3 linked regions of the Homo sapiens genome follow. The protein of the gene in region 1 interacts with the protein of each later gene in a biochemical or structural test. Each region holds a gene or a part of one and is shown in the gene's direction. Other genes may lie near its edges.

Region 1 (3,753 bases):
CTGATCAGGTCGTTAGCATCATTATGGTGACTTTCCACGGAGCAAAAGACCCACAGGTTTGCCTATGAAGGGGTCAGGTCAGAAACGGAGCAGGTCAAAACCCCCATGCTGATGAGTAGTGGAATCTACTGCCAAATAGTTTTTCATTTGAGTTCTGGCTGCTCCATTTGTTTGTGTTGGCAACTTAAAAAAAACTAGGCCAAATAAAACATCTGTGGACCATCAGTTGTCACCTCTGGCCTAGCGCATCTTCGGTTCTTATGGGAGAAAGTTCTTTATGAGGTAAGTCCAAAAGCATAGAGTTCGCTTGCTTAAGACCTTGCAGTATCCCTCAATCTTTGGATAATGATCGAACTTCATGACGGGCTGCTCTTCTTTTTTTCTGCCTCTTTTCCCTGATCTTTACGTCCATTTTTCGTATCTCCATCCCTGCCACTTTAAAGGTCTTGGTGGGCTGCCACACTCTAGCAAGTCAGCATGCCTTGAAATATGCTGACCCCCCCTGCCGATGGCTTCCCCTTTCTTTACTAGGCCAATTGGGTACTTTCTCTCCCCACTAAATTACTAGACCCAGTGCTTGGGATACAAACCTGGATTCTCTCTACCCCAGGGACTTCACGGTGCCTGCCACAGGGCAGGTGCTCAGTACATGCTTGTGCCACAAACTTGGGTACTCTCTGATGTTGAATTTTTTTAAGGTAATCCATGCAGATAGGAAAGTGAAAAAAAATTACACACGAGAAAAGGGAAATTTTACCCTCAATCTTCCCACTTTTCCCCAGAGGCAACCGCTGGTACCACTTCCTTGTGTATTCTTCCTGAGATATATATGGAATGTATAAGGATATATATTCAATCAATGCTATGGAGAAAAAAAAACAGCCCTCTGGGGGTCCGCGAGTGCTGGAGACGGTCGCGCACGGCTCTCAGGAGCTGCAATCTGAGAGCTGCCCTACTCTGGGCCCAGAAACGACCCTCGTGCACCTGCAGTCCTCCAGGGAAATCTGAAGAAAGTTCCACAGCTTGGATCCCCAGCACTTTGGGAGGCCGAGGCGGGAGGATCGCTTGAGCCCAGGAGTCGGAGACCATGCTGTGCAACATAGTGAAACCCCCTCTCTACAAAAAATACAAAAGTTAGCTGGGCAAAATGGTGCCCTGTGGTCCCAGCTACTCGGGAGGCCGGAGTGGGAGGTTCGCTGGAGCCGAAGGGGTCGAGGCTGCAATGAGCCGTGATCGCACCACTGCACTCCAGCCTGGACGACACAACGAGACCCTGTCTCAAATAAAAGGAAGGAAGGAAGGAAGTTACACAGAAAGGCCGCGTCGGCTCTCCTTCCCACGCCCTCCTGCAGCGCCTGCGCACCAGGGCCCGCTTCACGCAGGCCTGCGAAGCTGGAGCCCCTGGATAGCCTTTCTTGCCGACAGAGGCGGGAGAAATTTGCTACTTCCTGTATACCTTATCCTTCTCCCTTCCCAGTCTAAGATACGAACTATAAATGTTCGAACCCAATTCACCCCGGAGGGGAGGGGCCAGATACCAGTGGCCTGAAGGCGCCCAGGTATCCAGAAGAATTGTGGGTGGGGACCCGCGGTCCCGTGACGTGCGTCCGCCAATCAGCGCGCAGACCGCACTTTGCGGCTCGGCTTCAAACTACCGTGAGGCCGGAGCGCCACTGGGACCCCGCCCCCTTCGCCTGGGTCTGGGGCCCCGCGAGACGGCGGAAAGGGGTGGGGGCGCCCGGGGGGGGGGGGGGGGCCCCCGGAAGGGGGCGGGGTCCGGGATCAATTAAGGGCCCGCCTCACCTATTCCGGGCGCGGGCTGAGTCCCGTAGCCAATGGGCGGGGGTGGGGGGCGGCCCGGCCGGCGGGGAGGGGGAGCCCGCGGCCGGGGACGCGGGGGGAGGAGGAGGCGGGCTCCCAATCCGGTTCCATCCGGTTCTCCCACCGCCCCCGCTGTGGGTCTCAGCAGCTCGGGCGGCGGGAGGAGTGGCAGCGGCAAGGCAGCCCAGTTTCGCGAAGGCTGTCGGCGCGCCGCGGCCCGCAGGCACCCGGCACGCGCCTTCCCCGCAGGCACCCGGCACGCGCCTTCCCCGCCGCCACGATGCCCAAGAGGAAGGTGAGCGGCGGCCGCGGCCCGCACACGCCCCCTGGAGCCGCCGCCGGCGCCCCGCCGGGCCCCGCGAGGCCCAGGCCCCGTTGCACCCACGGTGGCGACGGGCCCGGGAGGCGCTTGGAGACCGGCGGGCGGGCAGGCGAGCGCTCGGCGGCCGCGGGGGCGGGCGTTCTGGAACGTTTGGCGGCCGGGGGAGCTGAGGGGGCTATTCGAACGGGGCGGCGGGAAGCCGTGACGTCACGCGGCCGGGCATTGTTCTCGGGGCCGGGCGGGCCCGCGAGTCCTGGGACTGCGGCCCGCCTCTATTCGTGCGTCTCCGTCTCCGCAGGTCAGCTCCGCCGAAGGCGCCGCCAAGGAAGAGGTGAGTGCGGGCCTTCTGCGGGGGGTGGTGGGTTTCCCGTGAGCCGCTGGCCTGCCTTCTCTTCTCGCTGACTCTCCTTTTTCTTTCTCCAAGCCCAAGAGGAGATCGGCGCGGTTGTCAGCTGTAAGTAAAGCGAGCCCCGTAACCGTTCGTTTTCCGCGGGTCGTCCCGGGTGAGGACGCTCAGTGCTGCTTTTGCCTTTCAGAAACCTCCTGCAAAAGTGGAAGCGAAGCCGAAAAAGGCAGCAGCGAAGGTAAGCCTCGAAACGCGCATTGGGATGCAGCGGGGCCTTAGGCTACACTGCTTCTTAATGCGGGGCTTCCATTTTGATTAGCTATTGGAGCTTTATTTATACTTTAATAATTACGGTAAATAATTTTTCTAGTGGTCGAGGCAAAAATGTAATGGATATATTCATCCTGGTTTATAGAACTATATCACACTAATGCTGCTGCAGATGTTAGGAGACTTAGGACGACAAAAAATATTAAATATTAAGTCTACAAAGGAAATTTATTCTTTGCGTTGCGTACATTGTGGCTGGTGCTTGGCTTTTAATTCGTGCTTGTACTTCCTTTTTTGACAATAAAAGAGTCAAGATAGCACCGAGGCCAGGAGAAAGGGAACGTGTAAGTTTTTATATATACAGTTTCCAAGCCAACTTCGGGAAGCCTTAACCTTTTTACGGGGTGGGGGTGGGGAGGTAAAAAGTTGTGATCTCTGAGAAAATAACCGCCACTACTCTGGAAGTGTTCATCAGCAGTTATACAAAACCGTGATTTTGGCTGCTCCCTAACAAATTCGTGATTGCATGATTCGAATTGCAGGTCTGTAGAATGAAGTTGGCTTTGGGTGTACGTGTGTTTGATAACTTGCAGGGTGGAAAAGCAGAACATGTGTAAAACAAGTATAAGCTTTGTGTTTGGATATAGCATTGAAACCTGTAAAGCTCTACATGTTCTTCGCGGGGTGATTAATTTTTATCCAAAACTTAGGTGAGAGTTTGCTATTTGAAGTCTCAAAAAAAATTTTTGTTAATGCCTTCACCTCTTTCCTAAAAGTGTAGGTAGAAGTTTAGCACTGCAGTCATCAGAAGAGGCAAGATTAATTTCCTTGACATTGAGGAGTTGTTGGATAATTACTAAATTTGTCCTTGTTAAATAAAGGTATAAAACAAAGATGTTTTTTCTTTTTTAATTTAAATTTTTTACAGAGCTGAGTGTAAAAATGTTAACTATGTTTTCTTTAACAGAAAGTTCTGTTTTTGTGATCCTTTTAA
Region 2 (3,753 bases), on another chromosome or scaffold:
TATTTCTCTCCAGGTTAAAAGATTTCAGGATTGGTCTGTGTAGGAGTTTACATTTATGGTCTCATCCCTAGTACACTGTGAATTCTTGAAAGCAGACATTTTTCCCCCCCTCTCTGAATCCTCAGCATTCAGCACAATGCCTGGCCCTGACATATTGTGGACTTAATAAATATCTGCTGAATGAATCATGAAAGTCAGGAATAGGATGATTATGAATCTTATCTGTTTTTTATCATTTTAATCTCATTAAAATATGAACAATTTAAAAAGACCTCAGTGCCTCAGTAAAAACACAGGCAGTTTCTTCAGTTCCTTTACACTGGCCTTCCTGCTTTAAGACCTCACACGAATCTCATGGTGTTCAAAACAAAAAAACCCTTGTGGTTAAACTCAAACGTGGGTCAGAACATGATAGGCTAGAACTAGGCCAAATGTTTAAAGAAGCAAATTTAGGATAATAAAGGAAGTACTATGTAAGCAAAGTAAGGGTTGGTACAAGATAAAAAACAAACTAGCTTCCTAACTGGTCTAGGTGAACTCTTTAGTGAGTTACTTAAAGATGCTAATATGCTTTTGAATATTTGACTGTTTAGAGGATGGATAGGTAGGAATTATGGCTCTTCTGTTGTACAAATTCTTTGCCAGTGCTGTCAGAGACAGCATTTAGTGGATCATAAGCCTGACCTAGAGTGATACTTTTTTCTCCACTGCAATAGAGTAGGTATAAATGATAGTAAATCTAAATATGAAGTTTTCAAAATGATAAAATTATGGAGGTTATTTTTGTTTTATAGAAATGTGTTATATAAAATAGCCACAATATAATGTGTTGTATACAATGTGTATTAAACAATGTGTTGTATGAAAATAGCTACCTCGACTTCCTTTAAATAACAGGTACCCATGATGCACTGAAAAATATTTAAAAAATCAACTATATAAGTATTTTATTATAGAAAATGAGGCCTTTGTGTGGGAGATCATGTTTAGTGAATGTGCAGCCATTTTTAACCTCAAAGATTATGTAGTATTCTATAGTATAGTACATAGATTTTATAGTATTTCTACTATATCAATATTATATAGGTTTCTTATTTTATCTATAGGGAAAATGCTCTATTAAAGTATAATCATTGATTTTGAAAAAAAATGTTTTATTGTTTCTTTTCCTTTTCCTGTTTTATTTTTACCACCTTTCAGGTTTTTTTCTTTCCCCTAAGTGAAGATCTGAGGAGAGGACAGGTATTGTTACATGTCAACTGTCAAGTAACTGTGACCCATTACTGAACACTTCATTGTTTTCAGTGATTATGATAGAGGATGTCAGTTTTGTAAAATCTAGAAAACTTTGCTTTATTTTGGCAGCTTGATCCTGTAGTAATGGGGTAGATTCAAAATGTGAAACTTGCTGGATGCATTTAAATTTTATTAATAAAACTTTTATCTAATTGCAGGAGCAAATATAGGCAGACTTTGTCTTCTCTTTAGTATACATTTCTGGAAACCACAATAAGTATATCTTATTTTTAATAAGACAGGTGGCATAATTGGACTGTGTACTCCTGACCAAGGACTTGACATTTGCTAAATTATAGAATGACCAAAAATACAGATCACTTATCTAGAAGTCTGAGTTGCAGAACAATTGTCCTAAAGTTTTTAAAAATTTTTATTACTAAGAAATTCATACCATTGTGATAATTAACAAGATTTGCTCTACAGTTCAATGCTCAGGGACATGTGATCTGCCAGGCTGTGAATGATGGGTAAGGTCACACTTGCCTGGTTGACCCAGTGCAGAATGGGTGCTTTAGACCCAACGGTTCAGATTATAATGAATGACACACTGACATGGTGGTGGTCTCACTGGTAATGCCTGCGTGTGATAGTGCTCAGTTGTTTATGTGCTTTGGTGGATAACACATTTTAAAGCATTGAAATGCAGCTGTGCAAGTACATATATTATACATCCCGTTCCCCAATTCACATAAATAGAAAAAAACAAGTATCTAAATTGTAATACCTAGCATTCAATGTCTTCCTTCCACCCCACTCCCATCAGTGTGTTCTTTTGGAATTAATACAGTGACCTGTATCATTAACCTGGAGATATCAGATCTCAGATATTCTAGTTTATCAGTTAAACACCAAAAAGCATTAAAACAAAGAAAAACTACCCTATTTAATCGTTCAGTAAAAACTACCATATTTAATCATTAAGTTTTGTCATGATTTAGCAAAACAAACGCAAATGTGTGTGTGTCTGTGTGTGTATGTGTTTTATAAAACAGGTTCAGGATAAAATGTATCCATATAGCACATTATGATTATTTTAATACATTTGGCCTATTTATTTTTTGACAGTTTATCAAGTTGTACAATTTAAAAGCCAATATTTATTAATCCCTAATGTACAGAAACATAGGAGGAAGTTGTCTCTTTGGTTAAACAAACTGTTGAAAGATAAACTTTGGCACACCAAAATGTTTACTTTTCAATTGATAAATAATATTTGTACATTTTTATGGGGTCATGTGATATTTTGTTCCATGCATAGAATGTGTAATGATCACATCAGGGTATTTGGGATATCCATTAATCATTTCTGTGTGTTGGGAACATTTCAAATCCTCTCTTTTAACTATTCTGAAATATATAAAACATTGTTATTAACTATAGTCACCCTACTCTACTCTGCTATCCATTGTTAGAACTTATTCCTTCTATCCAATTGTATGTACTGTGCCCATTAACCAACCTTTCTTCACCCCCACCCCCTCTGTAACCCCCACACTCGTCCTATCCTCTAGTAACTCTCATTCTGAGTAGAAACTCCCTACCTATGAGTCCCACGTGTGAGTAAGAACATGCAGTATTTGTCTTTTTGTCATGTGACCTATTTTAAGCAAATACATTAGTTACTAGTAATTAAGTAATTTGGTTTTTGCTCATTCTTAAAACTTAGAAGGGACTTTGTGGGGTTATTTGGATTAATAGCAAAGTGTTAAAGAACATAAGCTCTGGAGCCATAAAGACCTGTGTTTGAGTCCTGGCTCTGCCACTTAATAACTTTGTAACCCTATGCAAGTTATATTTAATATCTCTATACTTCAACATCCTAATTTGTAAAATAGGGATGAAAATAATGTCTACCTCATAGAGTTTTGGTGAGAATTAAATGAAATGATAATATATGTAAAGTACTTGGTTCAGTACATGGTTTAAGTTTTTAATAAACAATAGTTACAATGAATCATCCCTCTTAAAGAACTGTCTCAGTTCTTTGTTTTTCCTCTGGGGTAATTTTTTAGAATCCAGCAAAGCAATTAAAAGTGATTTATTTGATTGATCAGTTTAAATAGTCATGGTAATATCTGAACGTAATTGAAAGGGCAAGGGGAACAGAAATCTCTTTAATCTTACCCTTTTTGCATTGATCCCTTCCTCAGTATTGTCTTTAAAGGGAAAAAACAACATTGTGAAGAATATATGTGGAAGAAGGAAGAAAGGAAAGTTTGTTCACATTTTTAACATTGCTCAAATTGGAAGATGTCTCACAGTCCATGGGATGTCATAGTTTAATTAGCAGCATGTTTTTCCTTAACAATATATAAAATAATAGTGTATCTTACACTTGATTGTATCTTTTAATCAATGAAATATAGTGTATTCTGTATGTCTACCTCTTGAAGATAATGTGTCCCTGAAGAAATGGTTAAAGTCAGTTTATAGCATCAATAGGTAGAATTTTAA
Region 3 (3,753 bases), on another chromosome or scaffold:
GGGAATTCGAGAACTGCTGCCACAGTGAGTGGCTCTAGGACCACATTATCTTTGGTATAATCTGGGCCAGGTAAATGGATGCCCTACTCTTTGCCTCTCAGCCCCCGTGAAGCTAAGAACCAGGTGCTGGGATCTCAGCTACAGCTGCTGCAGAACCATCAGATGCCTCTACAGCTGTGCTCATTGATGGAGATCGTGGAAGCACAGCCTCCATGTGGTATCTCTTCTGCCTCTGAGATTTCAAAGTATTGCAGCTGCTTGGAAGAAGATAGGTCCCATGTGGAGCCTGAGCTAAAGAGTAGTATGGGAAATGCAGTGAACTTTCATGGGGAAGGGGTTGGAATAGAGGTGAGTGAGCCAGTCTGTGCTATATCAGCCACAGACATGACTTGAAGCCATTTTATTTGTCAGCAGCTGTGTAGTTTGCATTGTAATGAAGAAAGCAAACTTTATCACTTCAAATACAAGTAGATTATCTTTTCTTTGACCTCTTTTAGTACTGTCTCTTTAAAGGGCTGTTGTTCCCTGTGATTTGATCATACAAATTTGCAGTAAAGTGAATTCAAACTAAATCACCCTACTACAACCACTAGACTATGCTACGTACATACTGGTGTATCTACAAGGCAGCTACATTGTAGATGTCCAAAAATGTTCTTTCTTTTCTAATACCTCTCAGTTTCCTATAAAATGTTACTTGGTATTTGTAATTTATAACTTCTTTTAAACTCTTTGGATTTATCATTCAATTTAAATTGGTGCCATCTTTATTAGAAACTCTTGTTGTTTTCTTGCTTATTGTCTGTCTCTTGCACTAGCATGTTAAGTTCCACGAGGGCAGAGTATCTGCCCCATACTAGATGCTCCATAAATATTAATTCTATAAATACCTTGGCATGTAAAAACACCTAATTTTTTCAGGCTGGGCAACATAGTGAGACTGTCTCTTTTTCGAAAAACAAGCCTAACTTTTCATTTGTGTTATTAGTCATGTTTTTTTTTTTTTTTAAAAAAAGATAACATAATAGTGGTCATGTAACATAACCCAAGACTCTTCTGGTATCTTTTTTTTTTTTTAAGCTAATTGGAGAACATAGACAATGAAAAAGAAAAAAAAAATGCATGGGTGATATTTATAACTTAGGTGAAGATCAGCAAGTGAGTATTTGAGGAACTACCTCCAATAATTTATCTCAAACAGGGGTAAAAAATTACTTGAGATATAACTATTTTAGTACTTTTAAAGTATTATAACGGTTTTAGTTTTTTAGGTACTACCTCCTTAAATCAGCTAACCAGAACACTTAATTTCTTTATATATTTTAAAATTTATTTTTATGGCAGACTGAATAAGGTCTTTCAAGGCATACCTTTGATCAACACATTTTTATCTTTAGTTATTATTAAATCTTGTGTCTGCAAGATTTAATAGTAACTAAAGAAATGCCAATTTAACCAGCAAAGATTTTTTTTAAAGGTTAAAGAATGGTAATAACCAATGATGGTTAGGGTATAAGAACCCTTACTGATGTGTTAATTGGTAAAACTTTTGTAGAAAGCAGTTTGAAAAATGTTTAATGTTAACATTTGAAAAATGTTAACTTAGAAAGCATATTCTAAGATTTCTTAATAGGTGACATTGTCAGGTACTATGTGAAGTACACATTTATACCCTTAAGTTAGCAATTTCACTTCTAGCTGTTTATTAAAGGGATTTTGGACAGGTACAGAAATATGTGTATTACAGATTGTTTATCAAATGAAAAATTGGCAACATATCCAGCAATAGGGAAGATTAGGTAAATATAAACTATCCATATACTATAATACTTTGGTATTGATTTGTTGAATTTGTTATGAAGTGGGCAAATAACAATAGTGTAGAATGATTCCATTTCATACTGTCTAATGCATATGGAAGTAAACATAATTCTTAAATAACTTTGAACAACAAAGGAATGATTTTTTTTTTCCTTCTGCCTTATTTATTTTCCTAAAATAACTGGGGTAAACAGTTTTGACCTTGGGTCAGGGACCCTTAAGGTCAAAACTATTTGTGATAATAAAATGTTATTTTTGCACCAATGGCACAAAGTAAATAGTGGATAATACTGTTGTCACCTTGGCAGGAATCAAGATAGTGCCACCAGGGTAGCAGCAGTCATTGCATTATTCACAGCAGTAACATGCAAATGTATTTAAAAATGTTTGTGATGGAGCCAGGCATGGTGGCTACTCGGGATGTTGAGGTGGGAGCATTGCTCGAGCCCAGGAGTTCAAGTTCATCCTAAACGACATAGCAAGACCCTGTGCCTGAAAAATGTCAGTGTTGGAGTATACATGTATTAGATGTCTACCATTGAGTTCATCTCTTTAACATTCTGTGATGAAATAGGAAATACATAGAAAGCATTTCTCATACTGAAGTACTGTGGTTTGTCTCAAGGGAAAAAAAAGCCCTTGTATGATTGAATTTTGAGATGAACTTTTCCCCACTTTTAGAAAGAGTGACTCATTGACTGTGTGCCTGTCAAGATTCCCTCTGGTTTTCTGGCTAGAAAGCTCACCCATTTCCAGTTTCTAAGAGTCAGTTCAGTGGCAGAGCCACCAGGGACAAGTAAGACTCTTGGGGGTGCTTTGACCCTGCCTACCTGGGAGCACACTTTTCCCTTCCCTGATGACCTGGGATGGTGGCCAGGCCGTGCCCTTGCTGTCGCTGGGCAGTGTCCTTTTGGAAAGGGAGCTGCCCCAGGGTTTAGTGCAGCTGCCAACCCTGTTAGGCCCGGCCTCTCGAGGCCTCTTCCGACTTCAAGGGTCACACACCCCCAAAGATCCTCTCACCCATGGTAGTTGCTGTGCATGGTTCTGTCTGTCCGTGCACCTATGCACACACACCACCCCACCACCCTACTCTGAAATTGGCGAGTGAGTTGAGAGCCAGCTCTGTGGGGTCATCCCGCAGCCATGGTTGTGCCTGTCCTTCATGGTGGTCTTTCAGGTTATCTTGGCAACATGTACATTGCTTTTCTTTTTTTTTCTTATTGTACAGTCAGTACTATAAAATTTCTCTTTGAGTTTTATACCTTTGTAGCATTTTAGATGACATTGTGTTTGTACTTTGTTGTGTAGAGTGGAAGAATTGTGTTGAATAAACCCAAGATTGGAATGCAAAAAAAAAAAAGAGTGACTCATTGACAAACTGGTTATTTGGGTCTAGCTACTGGCAGGAATTCTCTCAAATGAACCAAAGAAAACAACTGACTATATTTTTTGTCAGTGATAAAATTCAGGGTTTCAAATAAAAATTAGATTGAGAAACTTGTAATACCACTGTGAGCGCAATAGCTTTTTTTCATAATGTTATGTAATGAATTTGATATATAAGTTTCAACACTTACATCTATATAACTTAGTAAACCACTATTTCCAAAGGGCCATTGCATGATGCCATATAACATGCATGGGTACAAATTCATTTGCGTTGAAGACATTCTAATGGATTTAAAGTCACAGCACAAAATGTTCACGTTCATGGTTATGGCTTCAGTTGCACATCGCACCTTATCTTTAAGCATCACACAGTAAAGTGTTAGAGTAGGTTTCGGCAGAGACAAAAACTTACAGAGATAGTCATAATAATGTCATATGTATGGGAAGGCAGCTACCAAGTGCCTTCAATAGTGGCAGAGGTAAAAGAGGATATTTTATGTGGGCTTTGATGGATGCCTAAGAACTTACTAGAAAGAATGGGAA

What was found.
Region 2: of the proteins of HMGN1 (region 1) and RPS6KA3, one has a biochemical effect on the other in vitro, tested with the Homo sapiens proteins (one study listed by BioGRID).
Region 3: the proteins of HMGN1 (region 1) and HPF1 form a complex in vitro, tested with the Homo sapiens proteins (one study listed by BioGRID).

Annotation. Positions count from the first base shown.
Region 1 is NC_000021.9:39,347,266-39,351,018, reverse strand, and holds the start of HMGN1 (non-histone chromosomal protein HMG-14), read left to right. Parts: upstream 1-1,930; 5' UTR 1,931-2,101; coding exon 2,102-2,116; intron 2,117-2,413; exon of another isoform or gene 2,414-2,441; coding exon 2,442-2,474; intron 2,475-2,565; exon of another isoform or gene 2,566-2,567; coding exon 2,568-2,597; intron 2,598-2,679; coding exon 2,680-2,727; intron 2,728-3,076; exon of another isoform or gene 3,077-3,640; intron 3,641-3,726; exon of another isoform or gene 3,727-3,753. UniProt on the Homo sapiens protein: Binds to the inner side of the nucleosomal DNA thus altering the interaction between the DNA and the histone octamer. May be involved in the process which maintains transcribable genes in a unique chromatin conformation.
Region 2 is NC_000023.11:20,260,181-20,263,933, reverse strand, and holds part of RPS6KA3 (ribosomal protein S6 kinase alpha-3), read left to right. Parts: intron 1-3,753. UniProt on the Homo sapiens protein: Serine/threonine-protein kinase that acts downstream of ERK (MAPK1/ERK2 and MAPK3/ERK1) signaling and mediates mitogenic and stress-induced activation of the transcription factors CREB1, ETV1/ER81 and NR4A1/NUR77, regulates translation through RPS6 and EIF4B phosphorylation, and mediates cellular proliferation, survival, and differentiation by modulating mTOR signaling and repressing pro-apoptotic function of BAD and DAPK1.
Region 3 is NC_000004.12:169,744,248-169,748,000, reverse strand, and holds part of HPF1 (histone PARylation factor 1), read left to right. Parts: intron 1-3,753. UniProt on the Homo sapiens protein: Cofactor for serine ADP-ribosylation that confers serine specificity on PARP1 and PARP2 and plays a key role in DNA damage response.